Regions from separate parts of the Homo sapiens genome. Here region 1 is linked to region 2. Evidence: fine-mapped expression QTL. A gene starts in region 2. The other region holds a variant in brackets. All regions are shown on one strand. Distances are between the middles of the regions. Region 1 holds the start of GPR84-AS1 (GPR84, ZNF385A, ITGA5 and GTSF1 antisense RNA 1). Region 2 holds the start of ZNF385A (zinc finger protein 385A).

Region 1 (8,899 bases), 33 kb before region 2:
AGAGGAGTGTCTGTTTTGTCTTTTAAAGTGTTACATAGGACTGAGCGTGGTGGCTCACACCTGTAATCCCAGCACTTTGGGAAGCCGAGGCTGGCGGATCACAAGGTCAGGAGTTCGAGACCAGCCTGACCAACATGGTGAAACCCTGTCTCTACTAAAGACACAAAAATTAGCTGGGCATGGTGGTGCGTGCCTGTGATCCCAGCTACTCAGGAGGCTAAGGCAGGAGAATTGCTTGAGCCCGGGAGGTGGAGGTTGCAGTGAGCCGAGATTGCACCACTGCACTCCAGCCTGGGCGACAGAGTGAGACTCTGTCTCAAAAAAAATAAATAAATAAAATAATAATAATAAAGTGTTACATAACTGAGGATGGTACCTCTCCATTAGGAAGTACTTATTTGCCAGAACCTCAGTCCTCTTTGGTGCTGGTGATATCAGAAAGGGGCCTCTGAGTTAACCATAGAAGGCCCCAGGTCAGCTGAGGAGATAATGGTGGATGCAGAGAGAGCCCACCAACAAATTATACGGGTGCAAAGATGTCTGAGCAAAGCAAATCTCCCCATTCACAGAATGTCCTGGCTCTGACCTCCACAGAGTGAAGGCTGACAGTGCTTGGTAATGGGAAATCTCTCTTAACTGCTGTGGGCTCCATTTGCATAGTTTAATCTTCTCCTCTAACATATGTCTCTGTGTGGCAAGAGAGAGGGTCCCCCCCATCAACTCCCCGCTTTGTCTTCTTAGGCTGCTGTTGCAGCAGTTTATTTCTTCAAATTAACATGCTGTCGTTACCCATCAGGCTTTGCGGGATCCATTAAACCACTCCTGGCTCCCCCTCATCCTTTCCCTAGTGATACTGATATTCAGAAAAGGCCTTTTCTGACTAGGGAATCAGGTCCTCCACCCCCACGTTAAGGGAGTTGAGGATCAGATAACCTGCTGGTTACTCTGAATGGAGTTAAATCTTTTAAGAAGTCCTCCTGCCTTAAAATGGAAGCTGGATGAAATGACCCTTTTTTGTTCATAGTCCCTCTGGCCAAGTAAAATTGTAGCTGTACTAGTCCCTAGAAGGGACTGAGAAGTTCAGTGCATCTGCCCTTTGTTTCAGTTTAAAGGATCACTTTTTTCTTCTCTAATACCAGACTCCAATCAGGTCTTACTCCAGCTTTCTCCCACACTAAATGCTTGTATCTCTGTGCCATAGGGTGAAGATGTCCCCCTTACGGAGCAGACCGTGTCTCAGGTATGACTCTCCCTTCTTCCTTTCCAGATGGACTGGGTCACTAAAGAGGCTAGAACAGCATTCCACCCATACCTCTCAAATCTGAGTGAAACTAGAGACTCAAGACACATCTTCCTTGGCTCCCTCTTATTCCAGAGAACTGGGACTCATACAGCCAGCCACTCCCTACCCCTACTTCCAACTCCTTTCTCAGTTACCTGTGAGCAGTGGCTGTCAGCCTTGCTCTGTACCCTTCAAACCCTCCCTGCCTGCCTGATGCCTCATTCAGTGATTTATTCCCCAGCAGAGGCTTGCCTTAAGCAGATGGTCTGTGTGCATTTGTGCACACACACTCTCTTTCTCTTATTATTCAATTGAGGGCTAAGCTGGAAATGCATATTCTAGAATATGCAGGTTTTGCAGATCCATCTTGCTACCTTGACTGCAGATAGATTGTCTACCTGATGTAGGGGGAAGGGAGGGGTTCCGTTTTCTACCCACTTGGAATTCTCACCAAGAAGTCCATCTGGATTTGTTACCCGCCCCCTGCCCGCCGCCCCTTTTAACATATGTCCAGTAACTCCCTTTTTTTTTTTCTTTTATACCAGGTATACCTCTTCTCTCTTCATCCCCTCAGTGGGTTTGAATTTTTTTGGAATTTTCCAAACAATCTGCTAGGGCCTTAGAGAGCTTCTTCCCATCTCTTTACCCTTGGGGATTTTCTATTCTCCATTCTTCTAAGGACAGGGAAGACAAGTGAGGGGAAGGAGATCCCCAGCCCTCATCCTTACCCTGCCCTGTCAGCAAGCTTTCCTCAATGCTGCTCTTATCTCTGCAGGTGCTGCAGTCAGCCAAAGAACAGATCAAGTGGTCACTCCTTCGGTGAAGACCTCACTGTTCCTGGCTCTTCATCCTCTTCAAAAAATTTGCATGTCTGCTGTGAATTTTCATCTAGTTCCCCAATCGATGCTCTCAGGGTCATCTCGGGGATCACAGGGATCCTTAAATCTCCATTCTGTTTGTGGTTGCCCCCTCAACCTCCCCTACACCCTTCCTATTCTTTTTCATTCTTCTTGCAGTTCTGGGAGTAAAGCTCCCAGCATATTTAGATAATAGGGCAGGGGAAGCACCCTCTTTCTTTCTAGACTGGATTATGCTCACATGCTCCCTTGCCCTGACATTTTTGTAAATTCTGTGCCCTTTGCTGTAGCTACACTTCAGATTAAAGTAGGAGAAAGAATGTGCTGAGTGTTTTCCTCCCTTTGCCTCTACCTGGCCCTCATCCCAACAGCCCAGCAAGGGGAGAGAGAAAGAGAATTCTTTTCTATAGAACGAGTGGGGGCGGGGATGGGTAGGGATTTATCCAATCTAAGCCCTAACCCCACTTAGTGACCTCAGTGTTTTCTTCCATTCCTTCTTACTGCCCTGTCCTCTGCCTTGGAAGAGGCTTTGGGAATAGTTCATAGGGAAGGGACAACATGGAAGAAACAGCGATTTAAATTGTATTGAACAGGGCATATAAAATGCATTCTGTACCCTGATCTGGCATATAGCTTCAAAACTGCAGTGGCGAGTGTCCATCTCTTAGTTAGCTACCTTAACTGTCCACCCTTACTACCTGTGGGATCGTTGCCTGGTTTGTCTTCTCTGTGTCCTGGAGCAAAGCCAGTTCCTAAAACTAAAACTCCATTCTAGTCTTGGGAAGAAAAGTTTCTACTCAGAACTGGGGAAGGAGTGGAACTTATGACTTGGGCCTCTAGGCTGTCTCTGTCCCCTCAGCTCCCCGACATGCATTTACTCTCTGCCGTGGGTCTGCAGTCGCTGCAACCTACCCTCTCTCTGCCTCAGCCTTACACCCAAGCAGTAGGTCTGTGCTCTCCCTGTCTCTAGGTCGCTGAGAGAGGTGCTTTTCTTCATAAAACCTTTGGGGTTTGGATTTCCCCAGGAAGATGGAGAATGGAATACTCACTCTTGGGTCTAATCTTTCCCCTTGACCCAGAACTTCCTCCCCACAAAAATGCCTTTAAAAACCTTCCTGAGACTTAAGCATTCTGCCCCACTTACTAACTGCCAGTTCTCCAGCACTGAGGTGGGGCAGATAACGGGGCATATTTAAGGGGGCATCTTTGTGTAAAA[G/T]ATGCATGGAGTCAGGAGAAAACCACCTTCATAAACTGCTCTGTGCAAAGAGGAATAAAACATTTTTTCCAAACTGCCTTTGTGTGATGTTTCTGTTTCTCTTCCTCTCTTTTTGGCAGCTACTCCTGTTCCTCCAGCCCCCCGTCATTCCCCATCTTATAATATTTCTTCCCTCCTACCTCAGAGACTCCTAGCAGTGCCCCCCCATCCCTAATTTACGGGGCTGTTTGCCTCCTTGGCATCTCTCCGTCCCCTCGCCTGGAAATTGGCGCCAGGGGTGGGGTGGGGATGGTATTTTCTCAGTGGGAGTCCCAGGGAACTGAGTTCTTCCCCCATCACCCCCAAAGCCAGCTGCCTGCTCCCGCCTCAGCCATTAGTAACCCAGAGACGCGCACCTGCGTGGGGGCTCTTCTCCAGCCCTTGCTCACTTCCTGCACCTCCCACTCCTGCTCTGAAACGGCGCTGAGCGGGTTATTTATCGGAGCCAGCGCTGCTCCAGAAGGTCAGGACGGTGGTGTAAATAACCTCTTCTCGCCATTTCCCCGTCCCTCCAGAGCCTGCTCCCCTCCCCCTCCTCCACCTTTATTCGCACAAATGAATGTGGCTGGGCTGGCGCAGCGCCTGGCCCTGCATCTTAATGGGGCGGTGAGCTCACAAGATGGATTTAGCTGGGGGTTTTATGGTTGCCGCGGCGACAGAATGCTTTGGTTTTCTTTCCCCCTTCCTCTGCAGGATTTTTAAGGAGGGGGGAGTGTGGGGAGCCTCTTCTCCACTGCAGTTTGAAGGGTCTCCTCAGTCACCTCTGCCGCTCATAAAATGGACCTGCAATTCCAGGATTAAGCAAGGGAGACCAAATTAGTATCTCAGATGGGAAAGGATGGGGGAAGGAAGGTAGCAGGAATGGGGAGAGTCTCTCCAGCATCAGAACATGAAACCCAGAGTTTTCCAGTCTTGCCTGCTCTTCTGTGAAAACCTGACAATTAAGCTCAACAACTATGGGGCACCTGTGCATGGGATACTCCTCAGCAGGTAGAAAAGAAAAATACCTGGGTGTACCACGTCTGCCAACAGTCCTGCATTGAAAGTTGGAGTGCAAGAGTTTGGATAAAGACTAGGTACTTCTTTTGTCTTTGCCTGTCTGAGCTGGGGAAAAGCAATACTCAGCCTTAACATCCTAATCTTCCTACTCACCACACAGCATTGACCTGGGGGAGGGGCAGTGTCAGTGCCAGAGCTGGGTGGTGGTGATCTGTGATGGTGTGGAGTTCTATCCAGTTCTCAAACTTGGAATTCTCTGAGCTTCAGTTTCCCCAGCCTGGTCTGGGTTAAACTCCTGCCTTCTGTTTTCCAGCATGAATGGAACTTTGGTGCCCTGGCCTACCCAGTCTTTTGGCCAGCAATTTTTTTTCAGGGCTATGAGTAAACACATCCCCAAGCACTGACTGAAGCAGAGCCTGGGAGCAGGGTCTGATTATTTCTTTTCCTTGGTTTCTTTCTGTCTGTAAGCCTCTGTCTTTCTGTTTGTGAGCCTTTCCCTCTTTCCCAGGGAATGCTGGGAGGCCCCTCCTCCCCTCTCCCCCTTCCTCCCCTTTGGCTGGGAAAGTGGCTACAGCCTGAACAGTGCCAGACACCTGCCTGCCAGATGTGGCGATTCCCCATTCTTCCCCCCACCCCCCTATGTCTATTCTTTCCCTACCCCACTGAGCTCAGGCAGAGGGAGCCCCCCAACAGGGTGATTTACTGCTGCTGCCTCTGTTCCTCAAGTGCCCTCCTCCACTCCTCTCCCTCTCCCTCCCCCTGATGCCCATGCCCCCTCTTTTCCCACAATGTTCTGCAGCTACCTTCTTGGTACAGCCTCCTCCCACTCCTACTCCAGAGTGCTAGGCTATGTAAACTCCAGCTCCTGGACTAGAGAGTGAATGCATGGGGCAAAGGTGATTAGCCTTCTGTTTCACCCATGGGAGAGTACATCAGCAACAGGGCTGAGGACAGGGGCAGCCAGAGCTGATGTCATTCTCACTGGGGGAGGAAGAGAGGTGACAGAGTGGAGGAGGTGAATGGGGAAGGAACCAACACTCCAAGACTGTCTGGAGAGGAGAAAAAGGTCTCTGAGAACTTCCTAGGTAGGTGACAGAGAGTCCAGAATTGTGGATGCCTGGTGGACATCACATCTTTCTGGCTGAGCCTCCAGACCTTGTCTTTGAACCTGTATCTCAATATGACTTAAGAGATGCCCCTCAGCTCCTCCCCTTCACACTGACCCAAAACACACAGAGAGAACTTTAAGTCCGCACCCTTCTCTCTTTAGTGTTTGTCATTCTGTGTCTTTTCTTTTCTCTTTTCTTTTTTTTTTTTTTTTGAGACAGGGTCTCACTCTGTCACCCAGGCTGGAGTGCAGTGGCATGATCGTAGGTCACTGCAGTCTCGACCTCCCTGGGCTCAGGTGATCCCGCCACCTCAGCCTCTTGAGTAGCTGGGACTACAGGTGTGTGCCACCATGCCTGACTAACTTTTTGTATTTTTTATAGAGACGATGTTTTGCCATATTGCCCAGGCTGGTCTTGAACTCCTGGGCTCAAGTGATCCACCTGCCTTGGCCTCCCAAAGTGGTGGGATTACAGGCATGAGCCACTGCACCCGGCCTGGTGTCCTTTTTTGTTTGTTTGTTTGTTTGTTTGAGATGGAGTCTTGCTCTGTTGCCCAGGCTGGAGTGCAGTGGTGCAATCTTGTCTCACTGCAACCTCCGCCTCCCGGGTTCAAGCGATTCTCTTGCCTCAGCCTCCCGAGTAGCTGGGATCACAGGCATGTGCCACTATGCCTAGCTTTTTTTTTTTTTTTTTTTGTATTTTTTAGTAGAGACAGGATTTCACCACGTTGGCCAGGCTGGTCTCCAACTTCTGACCTCTGGTGATCCGCCCGCCTCGGCCTCCCAGAGTGCTGGGATTATAGGTGTGAGCCACCATGCCCGGCCTATGCCTTTTCTTTTTCAATCTCTTCCCTCTCATTTCACCCTACCTCCCTTAGTTGTGCTTCTCTTTCTGGTCACCTTCTGCCCACCCTGCCCTTCCGTGCCATATCATAACCCAGTATGATTCCCAGACCTCCCACTAAAGCAGGGACTCATTCAGAGCCTCTTTTCTCCTTTCCATCTATTCTTGGAATCTTAACTCCCAAAGGTATCCTCTGGGTCAGAACAGGGTTCTGAGGTGGGACTGAGGTAGGAGGGATGGCTGGGCTGAAGAGTGGCAGAAACAGGACAGATGGAGCAGCGTCCAAAGAATTTGGGGAGGGGCGAGAGGGAGACAAGAAGATGGAAAGAAACAAAATGAGAGAGAAAAAGTGATTGAGAGACCGAGGCAGAGGCTGAGAGACGGTGAGAATAACAAACTGGGAGAATGAGAGACACAAAGAAGGAAGGCAAGACTGGGAGCAGAGAAAAAGAATAGAGTTGGAAACAGGAAAGTCATAGCAAGAGAAGGCCACTAGGGAGGGGCCAGGCAAAGGGCAGCCTGGCTCTCCGGGGCTCCCTCATGCCATAAGTCCTGTGTGTGTGAGTGTGTGTGTGTGTGTGTGTGTGTGTGCGCATGGCACATTTGCACAGGGGTCTGCGGTATGGATAGGATGATTTCCACAATATTTTTCCACTTCTTTCAGCAGTCTCTTTCCTTGAGGCACCCCATACTAGCCCCCCATCTCCCAGTATTCCAGATGCTCAAGGGACCATTCCAAAGGTATTTCCACAACTCGGCAATCCTGGCTTTCTCACTTGGAATGCAGGCCTGCTGGAATGTCCAGGATCTGTAGAATGAAGAGCCCCATCCCCTCACTGCCCACCCCCCATGCCTGCCCACCAGCTGCTCCTGTCTATCTTCTCCCCATTCTCCTTGTATCTCCCCTTCCTCCACACTGACCCCTCCCCCAGCTCTGACCCCCAGCCTGCCTGGGGCCTGGGTCAGAGGGGAGACAAAGACAGGATTTATCACCAGTATTGAGAAGTAGCCAGAGACCAGGGCTGAGGGCAATGGCTGACCTCCTTCAGATAGGAGGGAGCACTAGGCCGGATGCCGGGAGGCTGGAAGGCTGGGTTCCAGTGGCTGCTGCTCACAACCCCATTTTCCCACTCCAGCTTTCCTCTCTCCCTTGTCTCTGAAGACTTGGAAAACAGAGAAGAGTATGACCCTGAGGTGATTTTAGGCCTCTGAAGGAAAACCTGGGAGAAAGGAAGAGATGAGATTGATATCTTAGGGTTATTCTTTTATGGATATGGAAGAGGATTTGGAAACTAGAGGCAATCAGGCACCAACTGTTTCCAGGGCTGGGAAAGAGTTCAGGCCTAATACTGCAACAGATGAGAGGGACTGTCCTCTAATATAGAGAGGGACTTCTCAAGAACAGGCCCTGGTTGCCAGTAGGAAAGGAAATAGGGGTGATTATGGGTCCTGAAAGGTGGGAGAAACAGTCTCACCTGAAGAAAGAAGAAAGAAATGAAATTTACCAAGGGCTAATTCTAGCTCTAGCCCCTCTGAAAAAGTCTTCTTCCCTAAGATCCCCAACTCCCTCCTGAGAGGTACAAGGAGCAGCTGGTCCTTTACAGTAAATACACTATTGGCCCGAAATTGTCTCTACTCAGCAGACAGGGTGTGTGCTTGAGGAGAGGGAACAGTATGATCCAGGAGTTTCCGAGAAACCAGACTGTATATCTTTCAGTGGACAGCTCCCGCAGCTTCTCTAGCTGCCCTTGGAAGCCCACCACCAGCCCCTCTAGAATCTCAGTGTGTCAGAAGCCTCCACAAACCCAGCTCAGAATCTTTCATGCCCCTTCCAGCCCCTGGCACCCAACTTCCTGCTTCTTGCCTTTACCCTATTGTCCTGGAAGACGGCTGCTAGAGTTACCTCCGAGTGAGAAGACAGTGGAAGGATGAGAAACTGAGGGATCTGGGAGTTACCAATCTACCAGTTTCTCACCACAATCCCACCAAGCATTCCCACCCGGGTCTGGTGAGGGAAAACTTGTGGTCTCTCTTAAACTCCTCTGCAAGCTGAAACCATTCTGTCAATTTCTGATGCAAAGCCCAAAATTGGAAATTTTAGTGGGAAGGGGTTGTGGATTGCAAGAGAATGGGAGAGGACAAAAGAATTGGGTGGAGGGGGGTGGTGTGGGCACACCAAGTAAGGAAGAAACAGGAAAGGGGAGAAGAGAGCATGTCTTTTTTCCTCAGTCCCCCTTCCCCCAGTTGAAGAGGCAGATTTACAGCCTTGGTTTGGAGAGGGGGTGAGCATAAGGAAGACAGATCTGCAGTTCTGCCCTCTGAGTGTCTGGGTACTTAGCTTTAACTCCCCCATTAGCATCAATCCCCATCTTGCTGCCCATCCGTCTTCTGACATCAGCTCCTTCCCCTCTCTGTAGCCCAAGCTTTCTGACCCTAAGTGGCTCTTAAAGGGCCAGTCTAGACCCTTCCCTCCCTCCTGCCACTCCAGGCAGCAGTCTAGTGTATGTACGCATGTGCATTGTGGCCAGCCTTGCTAAGGCCATAGCGGTTGGAG
Region 2 (9,376 bases):
CACTTTGGGAGGCTGAGTCGGGCGGATCACAAGGTCAAGAGATTGAGACCATCCTGGCCAACATGGTGAAGCCCTGTCTCTACTAAAAATACAAAAATTAGCTGGGCGTGGTGGTGTGCACCTGTAGCCACAGCTACTCTGGAGGCTGAGGAAGGAGAATTACTTGAACCCAAGAGGCTGAGGTTGCAGTGAGCGGAGATTGGGCCACTGCACTCCAGCCTGGGGGACAGAGTAAGACTCTGTCTCAAAAAAAAAAAAAAGAAAAAGAAAAAAAGAAAAAAAGAAAAAAAAAAACTATCCCATTCTACAGTCAGTAAAACTGAGGTTCAGAATGGTTAAATAACTTGCCTAAGATCACACAGCCAGTACTTTGGAACATCAGTTTAAATCCTGCCAATCAGATGCAGGATGCAGTTCAACACCCTGCTGAACTCTTCAAGCTTATCCATGCTCATCGCTTTAAATACCTCTGCTAGAGGCAGTGGAGCCATGAACTCTGCAGGAGTCGAAACCCTGGATTATCCAATCAACTAAGTAGCTTTGTGACCTTGGACAATTCACTTAACCTCTCTGCGTCTGTGTTTCCTCATCTATACAATGGGGACAATGATGGGGTTGCTAAGATCTGAGGTCAAGTGTAAGTCAGGTGTTTAGATGGGGGGAGGTTTTCTCCCCATCTTATGACCTAGTCACATCCAATCTTGCACTTTCTCAAATGCTCCTTTCTAGCCCTTGTTCATGCTACTTACTTCAGTCTGGAATGTTCTCTAAGACTACTTTAAAAATCTTGCCAATAATTCTTCAAAGCCCAAATTATATGTCACCTGCTCCAGGTTAAATCCCTTTTTCCTCTGCTCTCTGTTTTTCTGCCTAACTCTGGTTGGTCCCTTAGGCCCCATCACATCCAGGAAGGTCTTTCTTGATACTTGGGCTTCCATGCAAGCAAAATGCCTCTGACACAGCTCTTCTCACACTGTATAGGGTAACTGTTAACTTGTTATCCTTCCTACCAAACTATGAGCTCCCCAAGTGTGGTAACTGAGTCCCGTGTCCCTGACACCAGGCACAGTACCCAGCACATAGTAGGTGCTCAAAAAAAATTTTTTTTTTGTTAAATTGAATTTTTTTTTTTTTTTGAGATGGAGTTTCACTCTGTTGCCCAGGCTGGAGTGCAGTGGCGCAATCTCGGCTCACTGCAACCTCTGCCTCCCAGGTTCATGCCATTCTTCTGCCTCAGCCTCCGGAGTAGCTGGGAGTACAGGCGCCCGCCACCACGCCCGGCTAGTTTTTTGTTGTTTTTTTTTTTAGTAGAGACGGGGTTTCACCATGTTAGCCAGGATGGTCTCAATCTCCTGACCTTGTGATCCGCCTGCCTCGGCCTCCCAAAGTGCTGGGATTACAAGCGTGAGCCACCACGCCTGGCCCAGTCTGAAAACTTAAAAGTGCAATGCAAATGTGTGTCTGGGTCCCTCATTTGGGGGGAGCAGCTGTGGTATAACGATAAGTCTGTTTAGAGTCAGATGCAATGGGTTCAAATCATACCTTAGGCACATACTGTGTCAACTTATATAAATTACTAAACCCTTCTGAGGCTTAGTTTTTGCTTTCTTATTTGTTAAATGGAATAATAATGTCTACCTTGTTGGGTTGTTGTGAAGGTGAAATGAGATTGCAGATAGAAACATCTGCTACAGTGCCTGGTGTGTAGTCAATGCTCAATACATGTTTATGGCTAAATATGGTTTGATGTGGGTTATTTAAGTTGAATAAGGCTGACTTTCCCCAAACTTTTAGCTCTAGCCCACCTTCCAGGCTTCAGATTCTAACTATCTGTAGAACATTTTGGGCTCAATGTCCTACTGGTATGCCAAATCACCATATCCTTTTTTTTTTAAAAAAAATATTTATTATTATTTTTTAAAACAAAACAAATAGGCCAGGCACGGTGGCTCAAGCCTGTAATCCCAGCACTTGGGAGGCTGAGGCAGGTGGATCACAAGGTCAGGGTTCCAGACCAGCCTGGCCAAGATGGTGAAACCCCATCTCTACTAAAAATACAAAAATTAGCTGGGCATGGTGGTACGTGCCTGTAATCCCAGCTACTGAGGAGGGTGAGGCAGGAGAATGGCTTGAACCCAGGAGGCGGAGGTTGCAATGAGTCAAGATCATCATGCCACTGCACTCCAGCCTGAGAGATTGAGCAAGACTACATCTCAAAAACAAAACAAAACAAAACAAAACAAATAAAGCTTTAGCTTTAGCACCACATGCTAAAGCATCATCCTCACTGGAGACCAGCTTCCTCTTCCAACCCTCTGCCTCTGTCAGTGGTGACTTCCATCCAATCACAAAGGCCTGAATGCTGGAGTCATCCTTGACTCATGCCTTCTCTTCTCCCCCACCCCCAAACACCAGTTGGTCACCATGGCCTGTCAATATTTCCTTGAAATTACCTCCCCCATTCTCCCTTTCTCTCCACTCATACTGCCACTGCCACCAGCCCCGTCTGGCTTTTGAGGCTTCCCTCGGGCCTGCATTGCTAGGACAGCCTCCTAACTGTCACCTTCCTCCTGCCTCTGTTCCCTTTCATCCAGTTGCCCCACTCACCTTCCTCAAACACTGCTCTTACCAAGTCACTCTCCTGCTCAAGAATAGACAGTGGCGGCTGGGTGTGGTGGCTCATGCCTGTAATCCCAGCACTTTGGGAGGCTGAGGCAGGCGGATCACCTGAGGTCAGGAGTTTGAGACCAGCCTGGCCAACATGGTGAAACCCCATCTCTACTAAAAATACAAAAATTAGCCCGGTGTGGTGGCACACGCCTGTAATCCCAGCTACTTGGGAGGCCGAGGCAGGAGAATCGGTGAACTGGGGAGGTGGAGGCTGCAGTGACCCAAGATCGTGCCACTGCACACCAGACTGGGCAACAGAGTGAGACTCCGTCTCATAAAAACAAACAAACAAACACACGAATAGACAGCACCTCCTTATTTCATATTGTATTAAATCTAGACCACCTTGCCAGTCCTCCAAGCCCTATCCCACTGATGCTACCCACCCAGCCGTGGACTGCAGAGAGGTGAAACTTACAAACAGGCATGCTTATTTTCCTGCTCATTCCCTCTTTCTGGATTCAGCACCTACACCCCTCCTACCTCCCTACTGTTACTACCACCAATTTAAGTCTCATTACTTCTCTAGATGGTAGGGCGATTCACTGTAGGACTAAATGAGATAATTCATATAAAACACTTAGCACAGTGTCTGGCCCGTAGCAAGACCTCAGCAAATATTAGCTATTATTATTGTTGTTAACACTGTACCAGATGGCCCACAATACTCAAAATTAACTAGAATTAAGGAAGATGGGGTCATAAGAGGAGATAAGGAATTAGAAACAGAAGAAGAGGGCAGAGGTGGGTCTGAGAGAGAAAGGTCGGGTCACAAGAGGATGGAGAAGGCAGGCAGGCTGCTACTTACGGTGCTGTAGTTGCTGAAGAGGCCAAGGGTAGGGGCTGGCTCGAGTGGGAAGGGCAGGATCTGCTTGAGGTCCAGTGGGGGCTGCATGATCGGGGGCTGCCGTAGCAGAGGCAGGGGCCCTGCCCGGCTCAGGCTGCCTGAAGGGCAGAGAAAACATTCTGTGGGGTAGGAAGATTAAAGCTTGGGAACCCCACCCAAGCCTGCCAGTCCCACTCCCTAGCCAGGGCCCCCACACTCAGAAGTGTCACCCTCAGTGCACATAGTGTACACACTTCCCCTGCTGGCTCCAGAGCAATGGAGCACAGTGCCCTGTGGGCCTGGGGGAGGGTGTAGACCAGTCCTTCCCTTCTGGGTGGTTTTCACTTCCCCCTTTTCCAGCCTCCCTCCCCCAAACTCCTTAGGCACATTACAGACCCAGTAAGAGCTCATACCTTTTCTGCAGGCTGCCTGCTGAACCAGCAGGACTCCCAGCCTCAAGCCCCTGGCCACCCTCTTCTTCTGGTTTTGCTTTCCCCCAGGGGATCCTAAAGCTTGGTATCGCCCCAGGAAGAAGAGAGTCAAGTGGGTGATTCATCCTACTGACCAGAGGGGGATATTGAGACTTAGATTTGGAGGGGGGCTGCTGAATCTCTCAGATGCCCTAGAATTAGATTTTGCTCTAACTATAATTCTTTATTAACTATTGACATCTGTGGGGGTAGGTAGTGGGTTGGGTGGCTTTTGCTCTGGGAGGTGAACTACCTAGGCCATTCTCAGAGCCCCTTCTCCCAACCTTCCTCAGTCTTCCCCCATGCCCTTTTGTCTCACCAGGAATGCTCAGCTACAGGTCCAGTTCTGCAGGAGGAACCTCGACCTGGCCTATGGGCGGGGAATGCCTGGGTCTGACCCCAAGGGGAAATGAAAGTCCAGGCCAGCCATTCAACTACCCTTCTCTGAAACCTTCTCCTCCTCCTCTCAGAGTCACGGGAGGAACTCCACCAGACTCCAAAGGGGCAGCCCAAAGGTCCTCAGAGCCCTTCTGGGCTTCCACTGGCCCAGCTCCCTTCTGCGACCCTGCTGTGCACCAGCTGGGGAGTTCTGGCCGCCCTTCACTGCTCCAGTAACCCCCTGACAGCAACAGGGGTTCCCAGGAACAAAGGCAAACCGAGGAGGCTGCGTGCTTGGCCCGTCCTCCCTTGACTTTACTAGAGCAGAAGGTCTCCAGGATCCCTTCCTGTTCCCTCCAGACACCACCCCCTTTCATACCTTTAGTTTCTGATGCCTGCTGCCCCCAGGCAGTGGCCTGGCCCTGGCCCCCCAGGGGCCTGGGCCTGACAGCGTCCCCTTCCCTTGGTTCTGCCCTCTGCCCCCTCCCTTGCCAGCCCCCTCCCCCTCAGCCCAGTCAGTAGAATCAGCCAATCAGAATCCTGGAAAAGTGGGGCAGAGGGGAGGGCAGGGGAGCAGGGATTAGGGGAATCTGAGGCGACAGGGAGGGGGTGGGGAGGGCTCAGGCACAGCTGGGGGCTGGGAGCTGGTCCAGAAAGGTCTGGAGGGGTCTGTCTCTTTCACCCCATGCCAGGATGGGTGGTCAGGGTGACTGAGACAGAGCAGGGGGTCAAGGCTACTGGGAGTTTGGGCTTCAGAATTCTCAGGGCTAAAGGAGAGGGTAAGATCCTTGGCTTTGACCCTTAAGTAGCTGGGGGTCTGTATGCTTTGTGTCTATTCCCTCCTCTGTCACCTTCAAGGTTGGGATGGGGTGGAGAGAGGACACACACACACACACACACACACACACACACACACAGAGAGACGGACAGATGAAAGTGAGTGAGAGGATGGGAGAGTGGTAGCAGCAGGAATAGGTGACTGAGGAATCGGACAGTGACACTGAGAGAGAAAAGGATAGAGAACAATGGAGAGATGTCAGAGAGCGAAATCAGACATACAAACAGAGAGACACTGCCGAAAAGCTGGACACAGAACTAGAGACTAGGGCAGACAGACCGAGAGACAGAGAACAGAGACAGCGAGAAAGATAAAAGAGAAGAGAGAGGGACAGATAGATGGATGGGGCAGCTTGACCACCTCCCCTTCCTGGTCTGTCCCCTTATGGCATCTGCCCTCTGTGCCCCACCCTCCCTTACTGCCTGTTACCCAAGGCCAGGGCAGCCTTAATGAGCCCCAGGCGGCATCAGGAATGGTGAGAGAAACCTGAGTGCTCCCAGAGTCCCCTGCACCCAGCATCCACCCCCAGCAGCTGGTTTTGGGCTGGCACTTGCCCTGCCCCAGAGCACCAGAGGCTGAAGCTTGGCTTGACCCTTTCCCTGGTTCTAGATTTCTCTAGGCTCCCACTCCTCAAAGCCATCTTAAGAGGAGACAGCAGAGTTCCAGAAAAAGCCACAGAAAAAAATTTGAGGCTACTATGTGCCAGGTAATGAATTCCAAGTATTATCATATTTAACCTCTGAAGTAGCTCAATGAAGTAGCCATGATTCAATGAAGTAGCTGATAATATTTTTCTACTTGACTTATGAGGAAATGGAGACTCAGAGTAGTTAACAAACTTGGCTGATGTCACACAGCCTGTAAATATCAGAGCTGAGATATAGATCAAGATCTGCTGGACTCTACAGCAAATTCTTTCTCTGCTACCTTACTCCCAAAGGGCTTGAATTTAACTGAAGCAGAGATCTGAGCACAGGCTTCCATCTTGTTCAAGGAGAGGAAGGGGAGAGCAGGTTCCATGCACTTCCTCAGGTTGGAGTCCTCATTTTTCCTCCAGAGGAGGGATAGAGGAAAACAGGTAGCAGCCACTCAGTTATCTATGGCTAACAACTCATCTTTTCCACAGACATGAGCCCTGGGTGAGCGGGGGAGGGGAGGGGAGTGGAGTGGGAGAGAGGGGTCAAATGAGGGTACAGTGAGGGAAGGAAGCAGGCAGGCAACTGGAGACAAACTATCTACTTCCCAGATTCCTGGGTCCACTCCATTCTGAGGTGGCGAGAGAGGCAGATGGCAGCTTTTGGGCCGGGTGGGCAGAAACAGGACTCTTGGTTTCAGGTAGCCCAGGCCTTAGGCCTCTCCCTCTCTTTTTCTGAGGCTAACAATAGTTGCCGCTTTTTGAGGCTTTACTATAGGCCAGGCACTTTACATACACAATCTCCCAGTAGGTGGTCCCACCACTCACTAGCTGGGTGAGCAGCTAGGTTCTCTGACTCTCAGTCTCATTTCTCATCTGTCAAATGAAAACAACACTACTTGCCTCACCAAGTTGTTGACAGGATTGAACAAATCCATGTAAGATGCTGGCATGTCACAGTGAGAACTCAATAAATATTTGCTGAATAAATGAATCTCATCTTATAGATGATGACAATTGGCTCAGAAGGAGAGTTATTTGGCCAAGGTCACACAGTTAGTGAGTGACGTGAACCTGTCTGTCTGGTTCCAGAGACAGGGCTTTCAAGCACTACACTTTTCTGGGTAGATCTGGAAGGGGAGGAGGGGAAAAGGCAGGAATATAGGAATGGCTGGGGAGGCAGGAACTGAGTAGGAAGTGTGGGGCTTTTGACTTCTAGCTAGGTAAAATCTCCAGGCAGGTTTGGCAGAAGAGGTGGAGAGCAAATTGAAGTGTGTGTAAGTGTGTGTGTGTGTGTGTGTGTGTGTGTGTGTGTGTGGCACCCATGTCAGGCAAGGCAGGGAGGAGCTGAGGCCTGGCTGGGGCAGGCCACTCTTGAGGGAAGCTCATTAGAGTAATTACCTCCAGCAGATAGAGCCCCACCCAGCTTCATCGAGAATTGCTAAATGCTTTATTAAAGAAAGCTCCCAACATGATTTAGAGGGGGTGAATTCCAGACCCTTGGATGGATGTCCATCTGTCCATTTTCACATCCTACTTAGCCCTGGGCACTTTGATCCTGCTCAAGTTGTGCTGTCAGCACTAACCCTCAACCAGGCCACATCTGGCTTCCTCTAATGGTCTTTTCCTTTCCCTCTTCCCTAGAAATTCGGGCCTGGTCTGGAGCCCCAGCCCTTTGGCTATTTTAGGTGGGGCCTCATGCCTCAAGCCCTGTTGTTAAAGAATGCTTAGGGAGTGGCTGCATCTGAGTAGGAATAGGAGCCAGGAAAGGTGTTAGTATAGGGCTGTGGGTTAGTGTTGGTTGGAAGACTGGGCCAGAATGGGATTAAGATCAGAGAGAGATATTGGGGTTAAGGTTGCAAGTAGTTAGGGCCCAAGGTGGTAAAAAGCACAGGGCCAGTACTGGGTTAAAATGGGAATTAGACTTGGGCCACAGGAGAAATTCAGATCTCTTCTCTAATTAATCTCTTTTTCCCTTCAGGCCTTTTGGCCTTTCCTCCCTCCCCAGAAGTGCCTAAAATTGAGGGCGGGGGTGGGAGGAAAACTTTGAACCCCTGGGTCTTTTTTACCAAGTTCCATGTATATGTCCCCTTCAGCCTCAATTCCCCCATCTTGGCAGGAGGCAGGCTGAGGACTGGAAAGGCTTTGAAGTCAAAGATGAAAGAGACGAGGGGGATGATTATGAACAACTACTCAAAACACCATGCCTAATAACCCCAGGGTGGATGTGGGCGGGGACTGGGCCTAGAGGGAGTAGTTGACTGGGAAGGGGAGAGCAGGGAGGCCCCTGGGAAATCTTTCCCCACTTGATTGGAAAGGGCCTCCTTCAATGTGCCACTACCCTTACTGCACCAGGGACTCAGTTGGAAAGGATGGTATAGAAAGGCTTAGAACAGGGAACCTGAGCCCAGAACTGCCATCTTAAACCTGGGGCCCAGACTCTAGATCTTGAGCAGGCTGGCTGGGTGTCACATGCTAGGCAGGGAGGGTTTAGGGTCCCTCCACGGCTACCATGCACATGGATTCAGAGGACCTAAGTGTTCAGAACTGAAACCTTTGTAGGGTCCCTGGGGGTCCCTGGGGGTGGGGCCGGAGCCCTGGCTGGCAGCTTCCTCCCTCTCTCCTTCCTTCCTCATAGAGGGCTAAGGTATGTGGGCTTTGCCAGACTTCCCGCACTCTGTGGGCTTGGCATAAGGAGGGAATTAATTACAGTGTCCTCCAGGGGGATGTGAGGGTACCACTTGTGGCTGTGGTCCAGTTTCAGAAAATGTGGACCCAGGAATTATTCCTGTGGCTGGGGTCTTGGTCAGGCTCCAGCAAGCAGGTCCTTGATGTCCTTTTCAGGGCCTGCTGACCAGGGAAAGCACGGCTTATGCCAGCCTATTCTGGGCAAGCATGATGCTGCCTCTCGAGCTGTGCCCAGGGTGGAGCCAGGGTGCAGAGATCACACAGGTTGGAGGAATGTGGGTCCTGTGCTCTGGGGGACTGAGTGCAATGTGTGCTGGTGGGGGTCACTCTAGCATCAGGGTGGTATTCATAGAAGGGTGGGTAATACCTTCCCCTGCTGGAGAGGCTCTTGAGAAGGAGGCAGGCAACCAGCCATTCATGCCTTCGTTCAGTCATCCATTCAATAGATAGGTGGAGTGCCAGGTGGAGGGGGTGAGACATACAGCAGAGAGAGACTGAGGACACACAGGAGGAGGAGAGAAAAAGAGATGGAGGAAGGGCAGAAGGACAATAGGTAGTCAACAGGGATAGGCGGTGAAATGAAAGAAGGTAAGAAAGGAAGACAAATAGCAGAGGGACTCAGGAGAGGGATGAGTGCAGGAGCCAGTCAAGCCCTCCAGGTACCAGCATGGAGCCAGGTGTCCTCGGTTGGGGGCAGGGAGACCACAGGTGTCTAGGCCTGGTTGGGGGGCTCCCATCATAAACAGATCCCAGAAACCAGCCTAGCCAGGGTGGAGGGCAGAGGTCAGAGCAGGCCTGTGGACTATTGTGGAGGCAGGGTGGAGGGCAGGGGCATGCAGCCGGCGCTGATGCAGAGTCCAGAGCACAGCTAG

The links. PIP is the estimated chance that this variant, and not a neighbour inherited with it, causes the effect.
Region 1: its variant is fine-mapped to the expression of ZNF385A in whole blood (TOPMed, PIP above 0.99).

Annotation. Positions count from the first base shown.
Region 1 is chr12:54,348,419-54,357,317 of GRCh38, forward strand. It overlaps COPZ1 (coat protein complex I subunit zeta 1), which reads left to right. Exons shown (of 9, transcript NM_016057.3): 8 at 1,202-1,240; 9 at 2,058-3,428. The coding sequence ends at 2,105. GPR84-AS1 (GPR84, ZNF385A, ITGA5 and GTSF1 antisense RNA 1) reads left to right here and starts at 5,273. Exons shown (of 4, transcript NR_120487.1): 1 at 5,273-5,478. It also overlaps a transcript of GPR84 not described here. RefSeq lists an enhancer at 8,526-8,899. The variant G/T (reference allele first, on the strand shown) is at 3,356.
Region 2 is chr12:54,380,950-54,390,325 of GRCh38, forward strand. It overlaps ZNF385A (zinc finger protein 385A), which reads right to left and starts at 3,784. Exons shown (of 7, transcript NM_015481.3): 1 at 3,479-3,784. The coding sequence starts at 3,565. The region is part of intron 1 of GPR84-AS1 (GPR84, ZNF385A, ITGA5 and GTSF1 antisense RNA 1); the gene reads left to right. RefSeq lists enhancers at 6,341-6,975, 6,976-7,609.